Homo sapiens: one gene and its partner. The protein of the gene in region 1 interacts with the protein of each later gene in a pairwise test. Each region holds a gene or a part of one and is shown on either strand. Other genes may lie near its edges. The genes, in order: KDM3A and STAT1.

The links.
Region 2: the proteins of KDM3A (region 1) and STAT1 interact in binary tests that used the Homo sapiens proteins (3 or more experiments, as listed by UniProt).

What each region holds. Positions count from the first base shown.
Region 1 is NC_000002.12:86,436,232-86,444,370, reverse strand, and holds the start of KDM3A (lysine-specific demethylase 3A), read right to left. Parts: upstream 3,001-8,139; 5' UTR 2,927-3,000; intron 2,911-2,926; exon of another isoform or gene 2,813-2,910; intron 2,702-2,812; exon of another isoform or gene 2,533-2,701; intron 2,354-2,532; 5' UTR 2,324-2,353; coding exon 2,138-2,323; intron 1-2,137. UniProt on the Homo sapiens protein: Histone demethylase that specifically demethylates 'Lys-9' of histone H3, thereby playing a central role in histone code.
Region 2 is NC_000002.12:190,975,899-190,983,171, reverse strand, and holds part of STAT1 (signal transducer and activator of transcription 1-alpha/beta), read left to right. Parts: intron 1-653; coding exon 654-789; intron 790-2,502; coding exon 2,503-2,552; intron 2,553-3,305; coding exon 3,306-3,400; intron 3,401-4,170; coding exon 4,171-4,316; intron 4,317-6,146; coding exon 6,147-6,332; intron 6,333-7,260; coding exon of another isoform or gene 7,261-7,273. UniProt on the Homo sapiens protein: Signal transducer and transcription activator that mediates cellular responses to interferons (IFNs), cytokine KITLG/SCF and other cytokines and other growth factors.

The DNA of each region.
Region 1 (8,139 bases):
GGTTGAGTTGTGATGTGTACAAGTAAGGCAAAAATCCAACCTAGCCAAAATTGTTTTTGACATGAATTCCCAGTTGTCTTCAGGTTAGGCACCAAAGTGCAGTGGAGAAGACACTGGGCCCAATCTGGATTCGCAGCCTCCCTCCGCAGCTAATTATGCAAATCTGGACAAGATTCCTTTTCCTAAATCTATTTCCTCATTCTGAAAATGAAGATATCACCACCTCCTCAAAGGATGGGGGCGGAGGGAGGAGATTTAAAAAATATATACATGTGAAGTTCCTCCTAGATTGCCTGCCTAACCCAACAGGTCCTCAATTGCTGCTACAGAAGGGAAGGGAACGCCTAGTCTCTCAACATCTGCCAAAGAACTAAAGACTGGAAAGTTTAAATAAAATCTTGTTTCCATTCAAATCACATAAAAACAAATGCACTAGAGAAAATTTTATTTGGCAGGCGAAATAAACCACAACAAGCACGACTGAAATCTAGTACACAAAGCCCAGCTTACAGAAAGGTTATAAGCCCAAAGCAAAAAGGTTGGCCATTCTTGCACCACAATATATTATCTCTATAAACATCAAAACCTGATTTGGCAGGAGAATGAGCCGAATGCAGGAAAAAACCAAACCTCACAGCCTATGACAGGAGCTCTGCTGTGGCATAGCTCTTGATCACTGGCCTGATGGTTAAGAGGGCAGCTTCTGGAGTAAAACTTCCTGGGTTTGACAGAATACAGGCTATGTCAATTCCTACGTATGTGTCCTTGGCAAGATGCTTAACGTCCCTCAGGCACAGTAGTTTCATCCATAAAATGGGGGCAATATTAGTACCTACCCCCAAGAACTGCTGTAAGGATTAAACGAGATCATAGTTGTGAAGTGCTTGCCACATGGTTAAATGCTCTTCGGTCACTCCTCCTTTTCAACAAGAGACAAGGCACAACACTGAAGCTTTAAAACATGCCTAACAGCATACCCCTTTCCTACAACTCTTTGCAGATAAATACCAGTTTGGGCATACACTGTCACCCTGAAAGTGTTCAAATGAACAGTGTTTCAGAAATCAACATATAATCAACTGCCAATGCTAAAACTTGCTGCCTTTATTTGAACATAGTTTAAGAAAAAGCAAAGATGATGGCCAAGTGAAGATTCTGAAACACATCTACTAGGCAGGGTGGAAATATCTTCTGTTCTGACAAGCTTCCTTCAAGTTATCACCACTTTGGAGTCTTTGTTAGGAACCTTTTTTCAGTTATTTTCGCACAAAGGAGTCTTTGTTGGTACAATGGCTTCCTCACTGCTTGTTCCCAGACAATCCTTTCACATCAATACTTCTATTAGGGAGCACAATCAGAATTCATCTGTCTTTGAAAAGATCTAACAGAAAAAGGTTCTGAGTGTCATAATGATTTAAAAAAAAATCACTGGCCGCACTTGTTCCCAATTCTCTCCCTCCCCTCATGCGTCCAAGTGCAGTATTTCTAAGCCAGTCCTCCAATATGCCATATATGGGACAGCTCCACCCCATCCCTCCATATATGGTCATATCCCACACCCACCCACCGGCTCATCACAGACAACCAGGAACCCACTCCTGCCCTGACCCACCATATACGGACAAACACCCATCCTAATACGCCAAACAGAACTTAAGCTCCTCCCTCTACACTCACTTCATTTTTAACAAGTCTGAAAGTTTTTTTAAAAGTTGAGTGAATAAATTAACAGGAACAAACAAACAAAACCAGCTGAAAGTACTTCCAAGCACTAACCTTCAATTCTTAATGACTCCAAACGTCACTTACAGGCCCTACCTAACGCTAACAAAAATACTCCTCCTCCTCTGCAGTAAAGATGAGACAGTCCTGGTGGGACACAGCACCGGCATTAATGAAGCGTGTCTGAACAACCCTAAGCCCATTATTAAAGCCAGGCAGCCAGGAGCTGTGGGCCAAACACAACTCGGCTCTATACAACCATTCCAAAGACTTTCAAGATCTAGCTTCCTGCACCTTCAGATCATATGCCAACTTTCTGGTCTCCGTTTTCAGAAAACGGAAGGAGGGAACCGATGGTCGCGTTACCACGGTAACTGCGAAACGTCCGGTGGCAGAGGCCCGGAGCCGCCTGTACCTTCAGATCCTTCTTGGTAACGTCGGTGTGGGAAACAGCTCGAATGGTCCCGGAGAGCCAGGGCCACTCGGCGACGCGCTCCACGTCCCAGCTGTCGTGGCTGCCATCGCTGCCGTCGGCTGCGGACAGACTGAGAAACCTCCTCCCCACCAATACCGGCCAACTTTCTCCGAGCGTGAGCACCATGGTTTCCACGCCTGCAGGAAGAGCTCCTCCCTGCAAAAACACAAAAACAAAATGCGACGGGGGCGGCCGGTGGGAGGGGGCCGGGCGGAGACAGCAGGGAGGGCGGGCGGAGGGCGCCGAACCCGCGCGAGGACGCGGCCCCGGGCGGACCCGCACCGAGCCCCCCTCCTGCGCCCTCCCGCCCCCCGCCGCCCTCCCCCGCCACACACCCGGGCCCCAGCGCCGCGTGACCCTCGCTCTCCCAAGTTTGGCTTTTCTAACAGCTCAAACGCAACCGCAGAGGGAGTGAGGGAAAAATTATCTGCGGCTCGAGTGGATTTGAAAGTGCTCAGCCCCCAGCCCCGAAAAGAAAAGGCCCCTGGTGCAGAGAGCCGGTCCCGGGCGGCTGGGTCCCCGCCCCGGGCGGCCCCACGGGGGAGGGTGGGCGAGCCCGCGATTCCGCACTTGCCCCGCCGCCCCGCCCCGGCGCCCAGCTCCCCGGCCCCGAACCCCGGGCGCCCGTCTCCCGGGCCTGCGCCGCTGCCAACGGGCGACGGGGCCGCGCGCTCGGCGCTTTCACCTTTCTCTCCCCTCTCCCCGCAGCCGAGGCCGCGGCGCTCTTACCCCGCCTCCCGCCTCCCTGAGTCACCGGCGGCAGCCGCCGTTTCCAGCCGCCTAGCCGACTCCAGCGCTGACTTGGTTCAAGAGCTCTCACAAGACACGCACAGCCTCCCGGACCCGCCCCCCTCGGAGCCGCTTCCGCCGCTCATTGGCTGAAACACAGGAGCTGGGCGAGGCTCCGGGGGAAACAGATCATCACCATTGGCCCCCCGGGCGAGGGCGGGGCCAGAGAAAAAAACAATTCCTTGGCTGCCTCCTCCCTTTCCCCTCCCCCTTCCGACTCCCGGGCGACCCCCATTAGGTTAAAGTACACAGAGAATAAGCGAGTGATCCCTCCGCCATAGGCCTATTCTTTCCATTTGTTGCCTCACAGTATGCAAAAAAAAAGTCCCGCGAAATCGGTTATCAACTTTGGGGCCCGGAGGAAAATTGCTGTGGCGCATAGATAAGACTGAATGGCGAGACCCTGAGCTATAAGTGCCTACTGGATTGTTCTTCAACCGCGTAGGCTGTCGACCGAAGATGAGCCTTCCACTTGGCGGAAGAATCTCACAGGAAAGGGTGAGGGCGGTGCAGGGTTAGCGGGGGAGGGCAGGGAAGAGAACGTGCGGTTTCAGGCGTACTCAGCTAGAGGGAGGAGCGATAGTGCTCTGGAGGCTCGTGCGCAGGCGCCTCGCCGAGCTTAGGCTGCTGGGCGAAATGGCTGCGGGAGGCGCAGGCGCACGTGGTACTGATCGTGGAACGTCTAAAGTCCGCCATTTTGAAGGATAAATGAAGAAAGGCGTGGAGTTACTGGATAATGACGTTCATTAAATTTAGAGCAAAAGAGACCTTTAAATACAATGTATAATGAGATTTTTTTTTCTCCAAAGTGGGATTGAGAAGGTATTCAGATACTTACAAAGAAATTTAAAGTAGTTGAAGGCCATAATGAATGATGGAAGAGATGAAAGAGAAGGTGACTTTGAAGGACAAAGGAGTTTAGAGGTGATTGTGTGCTCTGGACCTGAAGTATTTTGATTGAATGAAAAAGAAATGGAATGAAGAAATTGAAGATATGTTCATAAAGGCTAGTGTTTGACATTACATCACATTTAATCCTTAAGAAGAACTCATGCCTCCCATTTTACAAGCGTGGAAACGTATAATCAGAGAATGTTTGGAAACATATAAGGGATTATAGATGCAAATCAACTCTGGATGTTGATTTTCAATATACATATTCTGAATGTGATTTTAAGTTTTTAAAGTTAGTAACAAGAATTAAATTGGATTTATAATCTGTAGACCATTTAAAGGAAGGGGGCTGCTAAATGAGAAGAAAAAACCTATCCAGCTGAAAGAAGGCAGAAATGGGAACGAGATAAGCAAAAGAAACCAGAACATATGGTAAAAATGTTTTTCATGTGAAAAGTCCAAACATCAGTATTTACAATAAATGTAAATGGGTTAATTTCACTCACAAGTTTTAAAAGACAGTTGGGAATAAAAGGACAATCCAGCTATAAATTGACCATAAGCAAATGCTTACAAAACAGGAAGCTTGAAAATACTGGGCTAAAATATTTAATCAAATGGTAGCCAAATGAAAGCAGTATAGCAATATTAATACAATTAAAAGTATCAAAAGAGAAAGGATTTTATATTAAAGATAAAGTCCATGAAGACAGTATGGTCTCCTGAACTGTTATGAATCTAAAAACATGGCCTATCCTAAGGTGACGCTATGAACGATGAGAAATTTTACAAATTTGACAATTTGTTTTCAGAGTAGAAGACATAAATATCTCAGAAATATGCAACTCAAATGTAAAATATAAGGGAAGATATGGAGAACTTAGATTATGTAATTAAATATTAATTTGAAAAACAACTCAAGGGAAAAATTCTATTGAACCTGAAGGAACATATACTTTCTATGTTGAATTCATTATTTCAGAGCTTAGAAAAGATGGAAAGATATCCAATGCATTTTATAAAAGTTATAAAACCGTTTCACAAATTCTGAACTGGGCGAGTATAAGAAAGAAAAACTATGGTTCAATTATACTTAGGAACATAGATGGGAAATTCTTTTATAAAATACCAGCAAATTAAATCCAGCAGCATTTTTTTTAGGTAATTGATATGATTAATTAGTGTTATATGAATGCAAAGATACTTCAAGATTAGAAAATTACTAAAATTCACCATGACAGGTTAAAAAAGAAAAATCGTATATTCACCTTAGGGCTAAATAGAGCATGCAGTCACATTGAACACTTGTGATCTTAAGAGTATTTTTAAATTACATAGAAAACTAAGAAGATTATAAGTGTACACTTATATTCAATACCACCCATAATTTTTAAAAAATGTTTTTAAACTTTCTAAAAACCTAGGAATATAAGTTACGTACCACAGAAAAACACCCACACACATATGAACGAAAAAACATCTGCAAATAACCTAAGTGTACTCCAGTTGGAGAAGGAATAAATAAAATTATTAACAATAAATGGAATGTAATGCATATATTGGAAAGTTGTAGAGGATTTGTAAAGGAGTCAAAGCAGCTAGATGTTCCAATAAAAATAGTTACCAAAATACATTATGAATGAAAAAGAAATTTGCATTTGGTACTATTTCAAAATACACATACAAAAACAACAGTATATATGTTCTGTTAAATATGGTTATTAAAACTTACAGTAATGGTTACTGGTATTAGGGGGTGCACACTAGAATTAGGGGTATTAGTCAAAGACAACACATATTATTTGTAATTCTAATTTTTTATAAATACACTTTTTTTGTATTTACATTTTTATCACCTTATTTTTAATTGACAGGTAAAACTATATGGTGTACAATATGATGTTTTGGTATAGATATACATTGTGGAATGGCTATATCAAATTATTTTACATATGCATTCCCTCACATACTCATCTTTTTTTGTGTGGTGAGAACACTTAAAATCCACTCTTAGCAATTTTCAAATATACAATATATTGTCATTAACTGTAGTCACCATGATGTACATTAGATCATTTGAACTTATTCCTCCTGTCTAACTGAAATTTTGTGTCCTTTGACCAACATCTACCCAATCTCCCCACTCCCTGTAATTCTCTCATTTTATAAGGTAAATGTACTCACATGTTACTTTTAAAATTTAATTTTTAACTCTCATTAATGGAATCTGCTACATTAACAAATTAAAGGAGAAAATACATATGATTATCTCAATAGATACACCAAAAATTTTATATACTTCATTTTCATTCATTATAAAAACTCTTAGCAAACTATCAAGAAAAGAAAATTTTATAACTCTATAAAGGATATCTACCAGAAATATACTTAAACATTGTACTTAATTGTGAAATTTTAGAAAAATTCCCAATAAAGTCAGGAGCAAGATAAGGATGCCCAATGCTGTCATTACTATTCAAGTTACAATAGAGGTTAATTGCTAATGTAATAAGACAAGAAAAATAATACAATGTAAACATTGGAATGGAAGAAAAAGCCCAAAACATTTGTAGATAAATCAAAAGCATCAGTGACAAATTATTAGAATTAAAACAAGAATCAAAAAGATAATGCAATAAAAGATCAACAAACGAAAATCAAAAGAATTCCTATTCCTTAGCAAGCATCAATTAGAACATACAGTAGAAAAATAAAAACCATTAATGATAATAAAACATGTAATCCCTAAAAATTAATACATGAAATGAACACAACCTATATGAAGAAAATTAGACTTTGCTGACATGTATAAAGAAGATGAAAAATTCTGTCTCTTGATATGATCTGATAAATATGTCATTTCTCCTCTAACAAAACAACAAATAAAAACATCAAGACATAAATATATAAGTAATGAAGAGAACAAAGAAACAGACCCAGTGTATATTAAAAATTAGTTTGTGATCGACATATTTCTAGTGGGTGTAAAGAATAAACTATGCAATACATGCTTTGAGGTCTATTGATTATCCATTAAAAATGTATATATAAGCCGGGCGCAGTGACTTATGCCTGTAATCCCAGCATTTTGGGAAGCTGAGGTGGCAGATCACTTCAGGTCAGGAGTTTGAGACCAGCCTGGCCAACATGGTGAGACCTCATCGCTACTGTAAAAATTAGCTGGCTGTTGTGGTGCACATCCACAATCCCAGCTACTCGGGAGGCTGAGACAGAAGAATCACTTGAACCTTAAACCCAGGAAGCAGAGGTTGCAGTGAGCTGAGATCACGCCACTGCACTCCAGCCTGGATGACGAAGCAAGACTCTGTCTCAAAAAAAAAAAGTATATAATGTATATATAACCAAGATTCCTACACCAACATTCACGAAAATAAGTTCCAGGTAGATCAAAATGCTACATATTTTAAAATCCAATAAAATATTTTAAAATTCCCTCCTCTCTTCTACTTTTTTCTCTTTCCTTTCCTCTTTCTAAACATTTCAGTCTTGAGGCCATTAGGAGGGGCAGAGCAAGATAGGTGTTAATAAGGAGAGGCTGTCAGCCATGGGATGTTAGAGCTCTAAAGAGTAAGGAGTAATAGCCGGGCATAGACAGTCAGAGCCCAAGTGGGGTGAGAAGGGTAGACACACAAAAGGTTAACCTAGCCTGGGTTATCTAGAGTCCAAGTGAGGTGAGGAGGGCATCCATGAATGGGGGCAGCCTAGTGTGGTATGTTGGAGCCCAAACAGAGTGAAGAGACTGTTTACATGAGAAGAAAGCCTGGCATGAGTAACAGAGCCTGAGGAGGGGGAGGAGAGTGTGTAGGAGAGTGATTTGACATGGATGTCAGACCCCAAGGAGGGTGAGGAGGGCATTCATGTAGGGACCAGCAGTGGGCACTGAAAAGACCAAGAGATCTCTTAGAAGCAGCAGGAGAACCAGGTGAGAGGTACATTCTGGAAGCAAGCCAAAAAGAGTTTCAACTTGGAAGACCATGCAGTAAGGTCAAAGGATACACTGAGGTGAAGACAGATGGAGGACTGAGCAGCAGGATATTGAAACTGCCAACAAATATATTTTAGCCACTGGGTATTGCCAGAAATAACTTCCACTGGTTAGTAAAAATTATCCAAGCTTCAGGGTATATATTCCAGTCAAATCCTGACACTAACTTGCTGTGTCAACCCTAGCTCCAGAGGACATCAGAAGTTCCCAAATGCCTTAAGAAAGTTGGCAACAGAAAATTTGGAATATGCTT
Region 2 (7,273 bases), about 100 Mb from region 1:
AATGCATAACATTGTTTATGTGTGTTTCTGTTTAAAGACACCTTATCTAATACACTTGTTGAGGCATTAACATTACACCTATAGCTAGGATCACTGTAACTCATGCCTGAGTGAAGCTTGCCTCACACATGTATTTTCTCCATAAGGCACATCCCAGCCTTCCCATGCTTAGGAACAGTAGACCACACTGTGGTACTATGCTCGGGCACCATTTTAAACAGGGATCACCAACAGCAGTCACAAAATGCAAAAAACATGGCGCTAAATAGGCTTCAAAAAGGACACGTTTTTCTTATGAGAGGTGAAACAGGAAGCGAGTGTCATTTTGTTTGGCTTCAGTTGGAAGCGTGTTAAGAGACTCGAATTCTTTGCTGCTGTGTGCTGCTGTGTGTGCACGGGTGTGTCTTCAAATGACCCCAAAGATGCCATGTATTTAGATTTTGGAGTTACAAGTAAATTTTAGTGAGTAAACAAGTTCACAAATGTGCATCTGTAAATAATGAAAATTGACTGTATTTCTCTTCCCCTACTGTGAAAGCACCTGTGTGTCATATAAACTAGAATTGAACTTTGGGATGGACATATGTTTTAGTGCCACACTTGTGACTGGTGTCTCTGTAGTAACCCTTAGATTTTGGGTGTTTTCTCTCTAGAATCTGTCCTTCTTCCTGACTCCACCATGTGCACGATGGGCTCAGCTTTCAGAAGTGCTGAGTTGGCAGTTTTCTTCTGTCACCAAAAGAGGTCTCAATGTGGACCAGCTGAACATGTTGGGAGAGAAGCTTCTTGGTATATGCATATTAACTTGTTATGTTTATAAAAATTGAAATTCATAAAAATATCTCTCTAATTGCTCTTTTCCCCTCTGCTATTTTGTTAAAGGTAAAAAAGTACTAAAATCTGTCAGCTTTTCAAGCTATAGTTTATTATAGCTAAGTGAGAATCATATGTCACCTTAGAAAGAAATATAGACCTGATAACATTTAAATGAATCCGTTCCTCATTGTCTCATATTAAGATTTCTGAGATGAATTCCCAAGGGAAAGTTTTATGAATTATGTAAAATATATTATTTGTGGCTGAAATAAGTTCCTGGATGAGAAAGATGAAGGCCTATTAACCATTAACCTTGGGGAGAAAAAAGGAAGTCCCTGACATGATGAGAAATAAAGTCCTGGGGCTTGCCCACTGCAGCATAAACCCAGGGCCCTTGCCTCAGGTGGGGCCCAGGTAGCAGAGGATGCCGTCCCCACAAGAGGATGCCTCTTTTGATCTGCAGTTTTGCCTGATTGGACAGAGTCTAGACAGTGGTAGATAATTCCCTTTCAGTGGTTAATGTCAGTGCATTTATTAGTCCTTCATACTAAACAAATCAAAGATCCACTAGTCTCAAGGTCAGATCTTTCAGTGAGTGAGGCTATCTGAACTATTTCTTTAAAAATCCGTGGACAACTTGTATCCAGATTTGCTTTCTGTAGAGCAGCACTGCATTTACTCCAAACAGCAGTAGGCTCTTCCTAACTCAGTGACTTTCAACAGTGCCTTCTTCTCTTGGATATGCAGCTGTCACAGTGGTGGTCTTGTGCTGTTTAATACAAGTACAAAATCCCCTTATTCCATTTCTTTATTTGGTGAGAGTTAAGAAGGATATCTTTTCTAGCTGTAATGGCTCATTTGTAGTTCTCTTTGAAGACCGATAATGGGCTTACCGCCTCTTCTCGCCCAGGCTGCTTTAATTTGTGTAGCTAATAACCCCGGGCTTCTTCCTCTCGTTTCTCTCACTTGGTTTTTGATTTGCATCAGACTGCCTGAGCCCATGTCCTATTTGGAGGAAAGCTGAGGGAAATGCATAAATAATGTCTAAAATAAACTTGTAAAGTCAAGTATCAGTTACATTGAAGATCTAGGGGTGATCTTGGGCACCTAGGTTGAACTTTGAAAAAAATTCTGTAGGATCCTTGGGAGAGGGGGCTCTGCTGAGCAGCAGAGGAAGGCAGTGGGAAGAGGCACTGGATAGGGAGGCTTCTCTAGGAGGCCCAGCAGAACACCTTTGATTTAGTGCAAAAGGCAAAGTCAGCTGATGGTCTTGGAAGGAAGTGTAACATGAAGAGGCATTAAAAGGACTGTCCTCTCTTTAGAGGAGGGAGGGAAAAGGGGGGCTGGGGAGGGAGAGAGCAGATGGTAAGGCTTTGTGATGTTTCCGCTTTCCCTAAAAACTCTCATATCGTGGTGCCCAGGAATCTGCCATCCATTCCTTTCTGCCATTAAACTCAAACCAACATATACATATTTTAGACCATTTAAATTCCGCCCTCTTACAGCACGTATTATAATTGCTCAGTTAATTTGGCATTAAGGTATCCGAAAATGTCAACTGTGTACATACAATCTTTGTTGGGTGTTTGGCTCTTTTCCTTGAGAGCAAATACAAGAGCCATCCGTCCAACCAAAGCTTTAGAATCAGTTTCTGTTTGCTGAAAAATCTGGTTTTTATTTGTTTAGGTCCTAACGCCAGCCCCGATGGTCTCATTCCGTGGACGAGGTTTTGTAAGGTGAGGACTGTCTGGGTTTTATGCTCTCTAAGTCCTTTTTGCTCTTGGTTGAGGTTCTCATGTTTCTTGCTGTGATAGTTACTTAACTGTTTGCTTATTTTGGCGTGTTCTTCTCTGGCCAAGGAGCCCCTCGGGCAAGTTGTTTACTTTTCTTCAGTGCAGGAGGTTGGTCTCCGAGCAGGAGTCTGACAGGAAGCACCTGCCTGAGTGATAACATTCTTTCATATCTGAAATGAGGCTTCTGTTCACTCACGCTGGACCCCTGCCCAGCAGTGTTTTAGCCATTTCTGTGTGAAATGTATGTTGTGGGCTGGGTGGCGCAGCCTGACCAGCCAGACGAGTTTAACGGCCTGCTCGAGCAGAGGGGCCCACTGCGGGGAACATTTAGATTCTGCTGGAGTCACCAGACAGTGCGGACCAGCTTGCACTGCTGGATTTTGCTAGTGTGGGGCAGCTTGTGTTTCCGTGAGTCACGCTGGAGGTCACCCCCAGGCTAGCTTGCTACTGTTTGGAAAGGGAAGCAGAGCCCGGCCCAGGGAAGTGGAGAGCTCTGGAGAGCTCCTGGTCTGAATGCTGATAAGAGCGGGGAGGGAACTTGATATTCCCTGCCAGGGGAGGGATCCCATTGCTGTGCTGAATGGGACAGTTCCATCCTTGGCACCTGGGGAGTCTTTGCAAATGATGGTGGGAGGGGCCATGGTAAGTCATTGTTTTAGATTTTTGTTCATAATGTCTGCATTTGTATACTTTCAGGAAAATATAAATGATAAAAATTTTCCCTTCTGGCTTTGGATTGAAAGCATCCTAGAACTCATTAAAAAACACCTGCTCCCTCTCTGGAATGATGGGTAAGGGCCACCGATAGATGTATTTTGAAACATATTTTTAGTGCTGCGAGGTTGAGACAAGGCCTGAGTCCAGCTTCAGTATTTGACTAGGCGTGTGTGAATCTCACAGGAGTGCGCATTTATAGGCTGCCCCTTCAGGGCTTCAGAAGAGTAGAACCTCATAACATTAACCTTACACTTTCTTAGTACAAGTATATGTATTGGCAAAGCTAAATTAAAAAAAAAAAACAACTCTTGAGTGCCATTCATGCATTCATTCACTCAACAAAAATTTTTTGAGCACCTACTATGTGGCCCCTAGGAAGGAAGAAAAACCCTTTTAACTGGGTAAATCATTTCTATCTTGACTTATTGCCAGGATCGGCTGATATTTCAACAGAAGCTTTAACTTGATCAGAAGGGCTAAAATATGAAAATATATTGCCTAGGTCTTCCTCTCCAGTAAAAAAGATGTATACATTCAGACATTGTTATGGCCTTTAAAATAATAAAGGAACAATAAAAGGCTCATTAATCCCACACGTGTTATTGAGCATCTGTAGCATCCTACTGACACCATGTTCATATCGCTTTTTTTAAAACCTTAGTATATACATGTATAAGTGAAATGCTTCCTTAAGTGTCAACTGAACAGATTTTAAAATAGTCTACGTTTTTTACCGTAGGTTTTTTTTCTCACATTCCAGCCATTTTCTTGGTTTGTAAGTTAGCATGAAAATGGAAATCATGATTGAACTAAAAGCCCATCCGTCCATCTCTTCGATATCCAGGTGCATCATGGGCTTCATCAGCAAGGAGCGAGAGCGTGCCCTGTTGAAGGACCAGCAGCCGGGGACCTTCCTGCTGCGGTTCAGTGAGAGCTCCCGGGAAGGGGCCATCACATTCACATGGGTGGAGCGGTCCCAGAACGGAGGCGGTGAGTGGGAGTTTGAGCACATAGTCCCACCATTCCATGTGTGTGAAGTCCCTCTTCATCGCCGCCAGTCAGCTCATACAGATAGTGCGTTTGGGACATGAAATTGCAGATCTTATACTTACCCCAAATGAGCCCCCGATAGGATTTAATAAACCACCACAAATGTTTGTGGTTGTGGTTCACTCTCTGGAACATATTGTGGAAATGATGGTTTTGAAAAGACAATGCCAATTCTTTCCTTTGCATCAGGTTTGTTATCTGCAGATCAAGGATGTGAGTCAATGTAATCTGCAACCCGTTCTTGGAAGGAATCACATTTCCCACAGGAGTAAGCATCCACATTCTCTTAGGGTCATCCCAGAGTAGAGTGTGCAGATGAGACAGGCTTCGGGAGAAGACTTCATACACATCATCAGCCAGGGAGTTGATGCAGGACCTGTTGGGACGAGTGGCAGCCTCTACCCTGCCTTCAAACAGAGCAGCTGCAAATTTATCTTTATCATATATGGGGTTTCTATTTAATCAAATGAGTCCATGGCTAAAAGACTCCAGAAACCTTGGTGTTATGAAGCAGGTTTCTGAGGGTGAAGCTCAACAGCGTAAATGAAAAAATCATAAAGACCAACTGATTACTTTTCACTGTTGTTTAGAGTTTGGTCTGTTTGAAGGGCAGGAGGAAAAACTGATTTGTTTTAGTAATTTTTATACTTTCAGTGGGTAGACACAAAATGGAATACTCTTCTTGTTCTATTTATTTTTCTGAAATATTCCTCTTCTCCTGTTTTTCTGGAATACTCTTATTCTATTTGTTTTTCTGCCATACTCTTCTTGTTCTGTTTGTTTTTCTGGAATACTCTTCTATTTTTTTTTTCTGGAACGGTATTCTTTCTTGTTCTGTTTATTTTTCAGGAATACTCTTCTTGTTCTATTTGTTTTTCTGGAATACTTTTCTTGTTCTATTTTTCTTCTGAGGAAAAAGCAGGGAGGCTGAGATGAGAGTCTGGCGTGGGCAGTAGTCATTAGAACCTGCCCTTTTCCTCTTATCCTGTTCCCTTCCTGAACCAGCTGAGAGACAGATATAGTAGACCAAGCAGAGATGAAGAAAACCCTTGGCAACCAGGAAAGGTCAAGCAGGACACTACCAGCCAGGAAGGGTTAGGATGGCAGCATAGTCTCATGTTCCACAGCAGGCTCCCCAGAACACCTGAACCGTGGCCTCTGGAAGGTCGACACCCAAAGGGAGATTCTGTATCAGCTAGGAAGAAGGATCTGAATTCAGTCTGGGAATAAGAACGGGAGTAAATTAAACCATGGTTTATTACGTTAAGGGTTACAGGGAAATGTAGCAAATAGGATCATTTTTAATTTGAAATGTTGTTTTCTATATATCATAATTTATTTTAATAAAAAATTAGATTTTTCAATATGAAAAGAAAAACAAAGTGAGTTTATCTCTAGTAATTTAAATCTGTGGCTTAAGCCAAGATGATCCACTTAGTAGTAAGTTATTTATGTGCCTATGGGCAGCACATCATTGAAGATGCAGGCTTTTAAAGGTTTTTAATAAATCTTTTTTGCCCAGATTTATAAATCTAAGCAAATAATGGCAAATAGAATGTTATTGAGAATAATACCTCCCTTTATTTTCCCTGAGACAGTATTATAATTTATTTAGAAATAAAGCAGTCTACTGTATATGTTATAATGCTTAGATTGTGATTAGTTCTTATGAGGTTCACTCAAATCCATCAACTCTGCAGTGTTTTATTTCTCTGTCCTCTTTCATTTTGGGATGTTCTATGGGATTTACTTAGCTTTTCTCCTTTTTAGAACCTGACTTCCATGCGGTTGAACCCTACACGAAGAAAGAACTTTCTGCTGTTACTTTCCCTGACATCATTCGCAATTACAAAGTCATGGCTGCTGAGAATATTCCTGAGAATCCCCTGAAGTATCTGTATCCAAATATTGACAAAGACCATGCCTTTGGAAAGTATTACTCCAGGCCAAAGGAAGGTAAGTGGGGCAAGCAGGTGGTAACAGCGTGGCACAGTCTTTCCTGATGAGGGGGTGATTATTCTGAAACTCCACCCATGCAGTGTTTTGCTTTCGAATTGGTAAGAGTAGGCTTTCAAAAGATGGCATAAACTCAGTGCAGGTGAAACATAATGCATTATTTGGCCTGATACAGCTAGTAAGAAATGAATGGACAATTTCCTATTTTAGGAATGTTGGAAAAGTCCATTGCTGGTCTTGTGTATTTGTTACTATCACTGTTTCCACATGAAAAGGGTTTAAATAAGGAACTGTGGTAAACCAACAGAAGGCATCTTGCTCACGTTAAAGTTGAGGAAACTGAGGCCTGGGAGAAGTGAAGTGGTTCATTTAGGGTGGCCCAATTACTTACTAGATCCTATTTTTATTAGATAATTATTAAGAGGAGGCCTCATCTGAGAACACAGGTCTCTTGCTTCTCAGTTGTCAATGAATTGCATTTGAGAAGGTTCGAATTAGACCTGTTTTGTTTGGAACACACCAACAAAGCTGTTTTTCAGAATCAGAAATCTCAATATTAGGACAATTACTTTGGAATGAAGATGTCCCCAGCTTACCTTGACAGCTGTGAATATTCATTAGCCAGGCTAATGCCAATAAACTGGATAGAACTTTGCATATTTTGGGCTCAGACTTCTTGTAAGATTTCAAGTTGTGTAAAGAGAAAGCTCCTAGCTAGTGTCCTGCTGAACACTAGCTTATTTCCAGACTGAATTCAGATCCTTCTTCTCGTTGTTTCTGCATTCCCACTAGAATTTTAGGTGACTCAGGCAGGGAGGTTATAGCTCCTTAAAGTTTTAGGAGGCTAAGCTGTCTAGAAACACAGTAGAACTTTAATCCCCCCGAAAAGTTGATGTTGTATTCTGATGGAATTTCGGTTGATGGAAAGCGTACACAATGTG